Regions from separate parts of the Homo sapiens genome. Here region 1 is linked to region 2. The links come from fine-mapping of genetic effects on gene expression. A gene starts in region 2. The other region holds a variant in brackets. All regions are shown on one strand. Distances are from middle to middle.

The links. PIP is the estimated chance that this variant, and not a neighbour inherited with it, causes the effect.
Region 1: its variant is the best candidate, but not a certain one, in a credible set for the expression of PAIP2 in whole blood (INTERVAL, PIP 0.56).

Annotation. Positions count from the first base shown.
Region 1 is chr5:139,301,610-139,306,609 of GRCh38, forward strand. All of the region lies in intron 1 of MATR3 (matrin 3), which reads left to right. Among named protein-coding and RNA genes, the nearest start is that of MATR3, 10 kb to the left of the region's middle. RefSeq lists a silencer at 251-545. The variant G/GA (reference allele first, on the strand shown) is at 2,891.
Region 2 is chr5:139,339,104-139,344,631 of GRCh38, forward strand. PAIP2 (poly(A) binding protein interacting protein 2) reads left to right here and starts at 2,751. Exons shown (of 4, transcript NM_016480.5): 1 at 2,751-2,877.

The DNA.
Region 1 (5,000 bases), 38 kb before region 2:
CCGCGCCCAGCCCAGAATGGAGCCTTGAAAGAAATCACTGATTTTGCTTAAGCAGAGAAGAAAGTAAAGAGCCAAGTTTATGTCGTAGTTCAAATAGACAATGAACATCATCAGGTACACGGGGTAACTTTCTATCTTGTAATACGGGTTTACTTCATCAATTCTGTGTAGTTCTAATCTGAAACTATTTCTTGCCTGATTGAAGGTCACTGGGAAAAAATTTTAAACCTAGGAAGAAGACAGTATTATTCCAGGTCTGAGTGGGAATTTCTTACACTGGTTAACAAGTAGTTTTCTGTCTTCTCAGCAGCTGACGCCACTCTGCAACATTCTTGTCATTCATTAGCCTAAGGATCAAGAAGTGGACTAAAAATTGACTTCACGTCTGTTAGATGGATTAAGAACAGTGGTCTTAAAGCACTTGAAAATATTCATGCTTGTATTTCAGCCTTCCTGGCACTACACTTTTTTATCTTTTCTATTGTATGATGACACATGCTACTTTACCACACCCACCTAATTTTTGCATTTTTAGTAGAGACGGGGTTTCACCATGTTGGCCGGGCTGGTCTCAAACTCCTGACCTCAGGTAATCTGCCCGCCTCGGCCTCCCAAAGTGCAGGATTACAGGTGTGAGCCACTGCGCCTGGCCTATTTTAAAAACTCTTAAGCCACTCAAGGTACATGCCATACTGAGATGAGATTGTGACACTCAAAAACATAGATTAGAGAGCATAAGATTTGAAAGTGGCTGAAACTCTAGGAAAAAAATGTAGTTCTTCAGCATACTTCAAAAAAACCCTTAAATGAAATAATTGTTACAAAATATGTTAGGAAATATTATATACACCATTAAAATGAAAACTTGTAGTACTTTTAAAATGGAAACTATGGTAAATTCTTTATAAAACCATTATAAAATTTAATAAATGAAGAAAAATTTAAATAGTAACTGAAACCTGTTCTTGAATTGAAAATAAGTTGGATGCTTGGTTTGAAAGTCCTGACCGCAGGAATCAATATTTTTGTGTGATTTATGACAAAAATCAAGCAGCTACCTTCCAAATGGTGCTGCTTTGAAATTACTGACAGTCAACTATGTCTGCCATCTATCAGTGACATAGGTTAAGACATTTTTACTAAATTGGTATTGTTGATTGCTACCTAAAACATATTTGGTATATTTTCACATGAATAAGCTAATAAATGATCAAGGTGATTGGCCTTGATAGAACATTTGGAAAATCTGAGCATTTCTTGCAATTCAGAAGAGGAAAATATAAGAAACTGTAGTTTTCTAGCTGTTGCTTGTAAGTTTCAATGTGAAGTTAAAATAATGTCATTATGAAGGTATTTTTTTCCCTGAGTATCTCTAGTTTTATGGTTAAACCATAAATAATCTTTCATAGTTTTATGGGTAAACCATCTCAAATTAGTTGTTTTTTTTTTTTTTAATTCTGACTACAAAGACTGAGAAGAGAAAAATTATTTTTTTATTTGTTTTGTTTTTTGAGACGATGTTTGCTCTGTGGCCCAGGCTGGAGTGCAGTGCCCCAATCTCGGCTCAGTGCAGCCTCCATCTCCCAGGTTCAAGTGATTCTCCGGCCTTAGCCTCCCACGTAGGTGGGACTACAGGTGCGTGCCACCATGCCCAGCTAATTTTTATATTTTTAGTAGAGACGAGGTTTCACCATGTTGGCCAGGATGGTCTTGATCTCTTGACCTCGTGATCAACCCACCTCGGCTTCCCAAAGTGCAGGGATTACAGGCGTGAGCCACTGCGCCCTGCCAGAGAAAAATTATTTAAAGGAGTGATTATCTCACACAGTTGAGAGCATAGCTGAAGATCCATGTGGAGTAGTAGATACCTCTTAGCATTTTGGGAGGTCAAGGCGGGAGGATTGCTTGAGCCCAGGAGTTCGAGACCAGCCTGGCCAACATGGTGAAAACCCCCTCTCTACCAAAACAATGAAAACTAGCCGAGCATGGTGGCATGTGTCTGTAGTCCCGGCTACTTGGGCTGAGGTGGGAGGATGGTTTGAGCCTGGGAGGCAGAGGTTACAGTGAGCCTGGGCAATGCACTCCCAGGTGTGATGCCATTCCACTCCAGCCTGGGCAATGAAGGAGTCAGACACTGTCTTTTTTTTTTAAACTAAAAATCTTTTCATTTTTTTCTAATACCTTCTAAGAAATTAAAGTTAGCTTGCGCTTATTTTAGTAATTCTGCTAGATATTACTCTGAAAGAATGACTAAGGACTTACCGGTAATCTTTAAGGAAATTTAGATCTGGAACAGCTGTTTGCTTCTGTTCTCCGTGAATTTTCAGGGTATGTGAAATTTTTCAGAAATATTTTAGTACTCTAGTTCTTTTAATTGGAGAAGAAAAAGCCAATAACAAAAATCAGATTCTCATGTAATGGGAGGTAGAATATTAACTGAAACGTTTCCTAACCATACATAGGGATGATACTCAGATTTGTTTAGATGTTGAATGTGAAGCTAACATTTTTAAACAGCTTAAAATTGTATCATAAAATAATTTTAAGTTACAGTTTGTTTTGAGTTGCCTATAAAAATGAATTTTTAAGCTAATTTGTTAAGAATTTGGTTATCGGGCCAGGCGTGGTGGCTCATGCCTATATAATCCCAGCACTTTGAGAGGACGAGGCAGGGGGATCACCTGAGGTCGAGACCAGCCTGACCAACATGGAGAAACCCCGTCTCTACTAAAAATACAAAATTAGCTGGAAGTGGTGGTGTGTGTCTGTAATTTCAGCTACTTGGGAGGCTGAGGCAGGAGAATCACTTGAACCTAGGAGGCAGAGGTTGCAGTGAGCTGAGATCGTGCCATTGCATTCCAGCCTGGGCATCAAGAGTGAAACTCCATCT[G/GA]AAAAAAAAAAAAAAAGAATTTGGTTATCAAGATTGTAGTAAATGGCATTTGTGTAGTGAAATTGTGGGTAATGTTGATAGTTTTTAGGGGGGTGCAGGTGCTTTCTTTTTTGGAAGTGAAGGGTTCTGCATTGATGGGCATTTACACTAGTATATAGAGATTTTAAATAGGTAAATTGGATTTTGATAATAAATGTTCTCCCAAAGCTACTATATTTAAAATTGTTTTAACCTCTAGTGCAGTTTCCTATAGAAAGGCAATTTTATAATTACAGGAAAAAACAATACAGTAAAAGGAGCTAATCTTTTGTAAATCTTTAGTAAGTGTCTCCATATTGTGCTGCCTTTGCTAATAGGCAGTGGGGCCCATGTGAATGAGCCTTTAAAAGTGGCTTGTACATCTTATGTTCAGCATTGACATGATAGAGGAACTGTTTTCATTAATGCTTTTTCAACAATGTTGCCACATCTGGTTTCTCCCAACTTTGTTCTAATAAAACCATTTTTAAGAATTTGGTTTATTTGTGGTTTAATCCAAAATCTAACTTAAGTTGCTTTTCACTAATTTTACCCTAATATCCTTGATGGAGCTGCATTTTACGTTGAAACTGAGTATCTTAAAACTACTAAGGTGGTTATGGAATTACACGTTGTCATGGGATTTACATTGTTTGTCTTGACTCTTTTCTGAGTTTTTCTGACATTCATTTTCTGTTTGTCTTAAGGTTATCCTTTACCTTTGCTTCTCTTAACTTTTTCCTTTTGTTGATCCACTGTTTTCCTATGAGCTACCAAAAAATGTAATTCAGAGCTCTGTAGTCTAACAGTCACATTTCCTTAAAATATGGCCGTTTTAAAAATTTTAAACATAATTGTAATACCATTATATAATTTCTCTTAGGGAAAAAATAATTCAAAAGACTGACTTTTCAGTAATGCAAAGCTTTGGCTACAACATGAAGGTCAAAGCTGCAATTAATAACCCTGATACTTCAACATTTTTATTTTGAAAAACCCTCTAAAGGATTTGATTTGTAAAAATATGTGTGAAAATTTAGAGGGTCCACCACCATTTACATAGCATCTCAGCCGCCATTCTGTCTGGCATTTATAAGACATATCAAAGAAACTTTCATCTGAAGAAGTCCACTTATTCTCGTCTTTATTAATCTTAAAGCTTAAGTAGTTTACATAGTGGATCTTGTCTAGAACTATTAATAGTTTCTTTGGTGTATTTTCTCAAATTCATCTTTCTTGGTGTGCAAAAACATCTTCCTGTAACTCCAGCCACCTCTTATAGCATTTCTGTGTCTTTTAAAACTTGATTATATCTATTTTTTAAAATCCAGTCTAAATCTTTCTTGCCTGCAACTTTTTTTATACTTCCTTTGCCACTGTATTTGTCCATTGTATCCTTGCTTTAATCTATCATTGGTGAAATTGATCCTGTAATAGACTTGTAACTACTGGATATTGTCTGGTTTTACTGTTAAAGTTTCACATATTAAGCTACCAGTGCTGAGTGTATTGGTGATCAAAAAATAGAAAATTTAAGCAATGCCTCATAGAATTCTGTACCAAACAACTTCAGATTTACCTCTGTATGTAGTTGTGATTATAAAATTGTTTCACTGAAGATGTTATGTATATCTTTCAACTAATATTTTATGACAATCGTGATATAAAAGATTTGGAAATTCTTATGTGACAGTTTCTGAGGTACAACAATAATGATTTAAGAAAGAAAACAATTTCATCTAGAAACACGTCTTGGGGGATCATAATCAGAACATAAATTTACCAGGTGATTTGGGCTATTCTTGTGAAAAGTTTACAGGAAACTGTGTAACCAAGATCTCATTTTCATTTTTACCTGTTTTGTGCTCTAGATGTGCTGTAGCCCTGAGCATTAAATGAGTACTGATGGATGCTGATTTGGGGAGTTCCCTTCTTTAAATCACCTGTATTTCCTGTACCTAGGTTTTTTCTTGGGAGGGCTCCTATTCCTGTACTGACCAGAGTTAGTTCTCCTTACTTTAAAAGACTAGATATGAAGTAAACACTGCCTGATGTAGGATGGTCAGTAAGAAGGCAATTAGTTGTATAACTT
Region 2 (5,528 bases):
TACATACTTTTTACATTATTGATGAGAAATGAGGGGTCTGTAGGAAGGTGGTAATTTACAGTGGGGGCCTACTCATAGCCATCCTGGGCCTTCTGATTTCTACTTCAACCTCCATCTTAAGATGGTTACTATGTGAACCAGATAGGTAAATTTTTGCAGTGTTTTAAAACTGGATCTCTCTGTTGGTCCCATTGCAGTGTCTCTCCTTACCATTAGCAAACTTGTTAGCCTTCATTATTTTGTTTTCCATGTATAGATCATCACCATCACTATCCAAGTATAATATTGCTACATTGAAGTTTATTTTGCATGTGAGCAGAGTGTCCTTATGTCTAGAGAATGCCAAGGAAATACTGGGCCCCTGACGCTTAGCCACTGTGGTGAACTCTCAGTGCGATCTGGAAATTGAGATCTTAACCCCTTTGTGTGGGAAAAACAGCATTGGCCTTTGAGTGTTTCACATGATTTATCAAATATTTTTTATTACCATTATAACCAGTTAAGTGGCTTGTGTTACTAAATAACAAATTCAATTATCTCATGTTTACCTTTTTGTTTATTTGTTTGTTTTAAGACAGAGTCTCACTCTGTCACCCAGGCTGGAATGCAATGGCATGCTCTGGGCTCACCGCAACCTCCTCCTCCCGGGTTCAAGCGATTCTCCTGCCTCAGCCTCGCGGGTAGCTGAGACTACAGGCATGTGCCACCACATCCGGCTAATTTTTGTATTTTTATTAGAGATAGGGTTTCACCATGTTGGCCAGGCTGGTCTCAAACTCCTGACCTCATGATCTGCCCGCCTCAGCCTCCCAAAGTGCTGGGATTACAGGTGTGAGCCACCGCACCTGGCCTCATGCTTACCTTTTAAGAGAGTCTGGGTTAGGCCAGGCCCTGTGGCTCACGGCTGTAATCCCAGCACCTTGGGAAGCTGAAGCGGGCAGATCATTTGAGCCCAGGAGTTCAAGACCAGCCTGGGCAATATGGCAAAACCTCATTTCTACAAAAAATTCAAAAATTAGCCAGGCATGGTGGTACACACCTGTGGTCTCAGCTACTTTGCAAGCTGAGGTTTGAGGATTGCTTGAGCCAGGGAGGTTGCGGCTGTAGTGAACCGTGATCATGCCACTGCACTCCAGCCTGGGTGATGGAAGACTGTGTCTTAAAAAGAGAGTCTGAGTCATCTCAGACTATATAAATACCTATTTTGTTATGTTCAGACTTCCTTCAGCCTCAGATTGATAGCTTATCTTCACAGTTTAGAATATAGATCTGTAAGTGCTGCCAAGGTGGTTGACCCAGGAGCTAGGGCAGAACCATCTGCATTCATTTCTTTGGGGCTTTGGACTGGCCCAGAAGAGTATTCAGTGAATGAAATAGCTCTGAAGAGGAACAACCCGGTTTCTAAATTCAAGCCTTCCCATGGAGGGAATTTTTTGTCTTAGTAAATACTACAAGCATATAGTTTTTAAAAGATTCAAATTTTTCAGGAGAAAAGGATAGTTATTTGCACCCATTTCCTAGTCGGTCATTTGCCCTCTCCAAAGGGAAGAAATTAGTTTGTGTCCCTTTTTCAAAGATAGTATCTACACATTTGAACATCCAGATTTGTAAAACACATACTCTCGGCCGGGTGCGGTGGCTCACACCTGTAATCCTAGCACTTTGAGAGGCGGAGGCGGGTGGATCACGAGGTCAGGAGATCGAGACCATCCTGGCCAACACGGTGAAACCCCTATCTCTACTAAAAGTACAAAAATTGGCCGGGTGTGCTGGCGTGCGCCTGTAGTCCCAGCTACTTGGGAGGCTGTGGCAGGAGAATCTCTTGAACCCGGGAGGCGGAGGTTGCAGTGAGCCGAGATGGCGCCACTGCACTCCAGCCTGGGCAAGAGAGCCAGACTCCGCCTCAAAAAAACAAAACAAAACAAAAAAACAAAAACATACTCTCTTCTTTACATTGCTTAGTGTCACTAGAAATATATCTTGGGGCTTGTCAACGATGACAGGAAGGAAGCATGGGTAAGAATAACTATGGGGCCAGTGCACCCAGGATCACGGACTACAAAATTCTTGAACCCGGAGGTCACACTTTTCTATCCTGTGTGGACAGGGCATTTCCTCCTTTAGCCACAAAGAAGTTGCACATGTATTTGTATTTTGCGTTTGCATCCAGCTTCAAAAAGTGTGTTTTTGTGCCTGCACATGTCTGAGTGCGGATGTTTGCATATCATTTAGTACGCCTCTGTGATTTCCCTTAGTTTATTATTTTTCTGTGTCAGGATCTTGACGTGACTCGGTGCATGTCGCTGTTTGTGTGACATTGTGTATCATTCTTGGGGTGTGTATGGGTATGTGTGTGCTATGTCATTACCTAAATATTACGTTTTTGGGGGGGTGTGTGATGTCTGTGAAAGTCCACGCCTGTGTATCTTGTCAGGGTGCTCTTCAGTCCCCAGCTGCCTCACTCATTGCATATCATCATTCTCGGAAGATGGGCGGGTGTGGGAACAGTGGTACGCCCCCATTCCTGCCTTCCAGAGAGAACGTGCGACAGCGTTCCTGCTACACCCGGCAGCCGGCCGTAGGGGCGCGCTGGAAAGGCTGCTGCGCGTGCACACGTGTGCAGCCTTGGAGACAGACTTCGGGGTCGCGCGTTCTCGCGCGCGCTCTCTAGTGGCTTCGGAGGGCAGAGCTGACAGAACAAGAGGGCGGGGTTGGCGGCGACGGAAGTGAAGTCACTTCCGGGCTGGGGTGTTTGTTTGGACTGGAGAAGGGAGGCGGCGGGCGAAGCGCACGTCGAGCGGGGGAGCGGCGCTGCCTGTGGAGATCCGCGGAGGCCGACAGGATTCGTTGGCTGCCGTCCCCGCTGCTGTGCATTGGGTGAGGGGTCCTCTCGGGCAGAGTGGCGACAGGGGTGCGGAGGTCGAGGGACAGCAAGTCGGCGACGGCAGAGGGGCCTAAAGGGTTCCCTGGGTGGTTGGCCACCGAGTCCATTGCGGCCTCCGTTGTTCATTGCCTCTTTCCACCAAGTCTGAGGGATGAGCTTGGGCCGACTTCGTCTCTGTCTTCTCCGAGACATGGCCGTCGCTTTTTTTTCATTGTCATTATTAATGATTTGGATCTCGCAGCTCTCTATCCGGGTCCTCAGTGGCGCGAGGGTTGCCGGGATAGCACTTTCTCCTGTTCCTCATTCTCCCGGTCCTTTATCCCTCCGCCGGGTACCCTTTCCCCTGCCCCCCTCCCACCGCCTCGGCAACAAAGCTTATTGTTTCTACCCACTTTACGCCTGCGCGTCGCCACGCGCAGCCCCTACTTGCTGCGCGTGCGCGCCTCAGCCGAGGCTGGGGTTTGGGGAGAGAGGGGCGGAGGGACTGGCGGGCTCTTGGCGTCTTGGGGGAACGCTGCAACCGTCGACGGGCCTGATCAGAAGATCGTCTTTCTCCCGTTTCTTCGCCATCGCTACCCCTTATTTTTGGTTGTATTGCAGCTCATGCCCTGGAAAAAAGAACCTTTGGGGTACTGGGAACCCTTACCCTAGGAGGGCGTTGAGTTAGATGAACTTTAAGGTCCTCTTACCTTTTAATAATTTTCTGTGCTTACTCTCCTCCTTCCCCACCATCGCCACCAGAAATAAATAAGGCTTGTGGTGAACTTAGGTCTTCAAAACATTTGTTGCAGCAGCCAGCAGTGATATTTTTTAGGGACTCCTAAAAGGGGTCTTACCTGCTTCCTTTTGTTTCTTTTTTCCCTGATTTGGCACCCGTATCAACTCATAAAAACCCCAAACTCTAGAAAGAATTTGGCTTCCAATTTGCCTTGGAAGGTGTAGCAGCTGACAGCCTTTGACGTTTATTTCAACGGAAAGTAGATGTTCATGTTGGGTGTGCTGGCTAATGTTGAAACGTGGTGGCATTGTTTTTTCACAGATTTCATTAGCACAGTTAGATCAGGTGTTGGTTTATATTTTCATTAAGTCGCTTTTGAAATTTCTTCTGGCGTAGGTTGTGTTTGCAATAAGTAAAAGTTCTCTACAATAATTTTTAATGAGACTCCACTATTTGCTTTTGTGATTCTGTTTCCAGTTAGTGAAAGACAGGATATTTGGGGAAAATTAGTCTGTTTATACTACTTGTCAGTTGTGAACTTGAATAAAACTTTTTCACACACACACAAAATCACAGGATAGGTAACTTGACAAGAACTATAGAACCCACTTGTGTTTCTTTAAGGGATGGAGGTTAGGGAATGGAGATTTCCTCTAATGATTCAAGGCTGTGCACGTTGCTCCTTAGGAACTCAAATTGAGGTAGGTAATTTCACCCTCTTTTGGTCAGAATGAGTTTATAGCAGGCTTTTCCTTAAATAAGCACTCTGCACTTTATTCAGGTTTATCACTTTATGACTCTAGAGTGTGATGCTCCAGTTTTAGTGAAAAACTTGAACACTTAGCACAGCAATTTGGTTGATACTGTGGGAGATTAAAGAATGTGGAAGGCAAGACCTCTGCCCCCTTGTAATCTAATAACCTTTTGTGCTTTTAAAACATTTTCTTGTAATTTACATCCTATTGTCATTCATTATCATGAAACGTGAAATGGGCAGAGCAAGTTTTTTTTTTTTTTTTTTTTTGAGATGGAGTCTCACTCTGTCGCCAGGCTGGAGTGCTGGAGTGCAGTGGCGCAATTGGCTCACTGCAACCTCCGCCTCCCCGGGTTCAAGCGATTCTCCTGCCTCCGCCTCCCTAGTAGCTGGGACTACAGGCGCTTGCCACCACGCCGGCTAATTTTTTGTATTTTTAGTAGAGACAGGGTTTCACCGTGTTAGCCAGGATGGTCTCGATCTCCTGACTTTGTGATCCGCCCCCGTCGGCCTCCCAACAGAGCAAGTTTTATCTTGCCCATTTGGGAATTAAAGAAATAGAAGCCTGAAAGATTATTTTTATTTAGCAAATATTTATATAACAATAATGCCAGGCATTGTTCTCATTGCCTTTACAAATATTAACTAATTTGATCCACAACATAGCTAGAAGGTAGGCCCTACTGTAAAATGAAGATAACAAATGAGACGTGAAGTAACTTTCCCAATGTCACAGAGCTATGATAGTCGGAATTCAAATCCAGATAGTCCAGAGATTCTATGCTCTTAACCATTATGTGGTGCTGTGTGATTTAGTGACAGGTCTAGGGTACTTTAAGGTGGCTATGTAGCATAGCTGGGATTTGAACCTACGTCTTCTGACTGTGGTCTAAGATTAAAGTTGTCCAAGTCATTGCCTTTGTGATCTAGACCACCTGTTGCACAGGTGCATGAATAGTTTGCATTTGATATAGGCTAAGGTTCAGTTCCAAAAAACTCCCTTTTTTCTTAATTTTTTCATTGTTTAGAGTGGTGCTGTCCAATGATGTAGGTACTGTGTGTGGTTATGAGCACTTGAGATGTGGCTAGTGTAAATGAAGAACTAAATTTTAATTAAATAGATCTGTGTAGCCGATGGCCACCATATTGGATGGGCACACGTTTGGAGAATT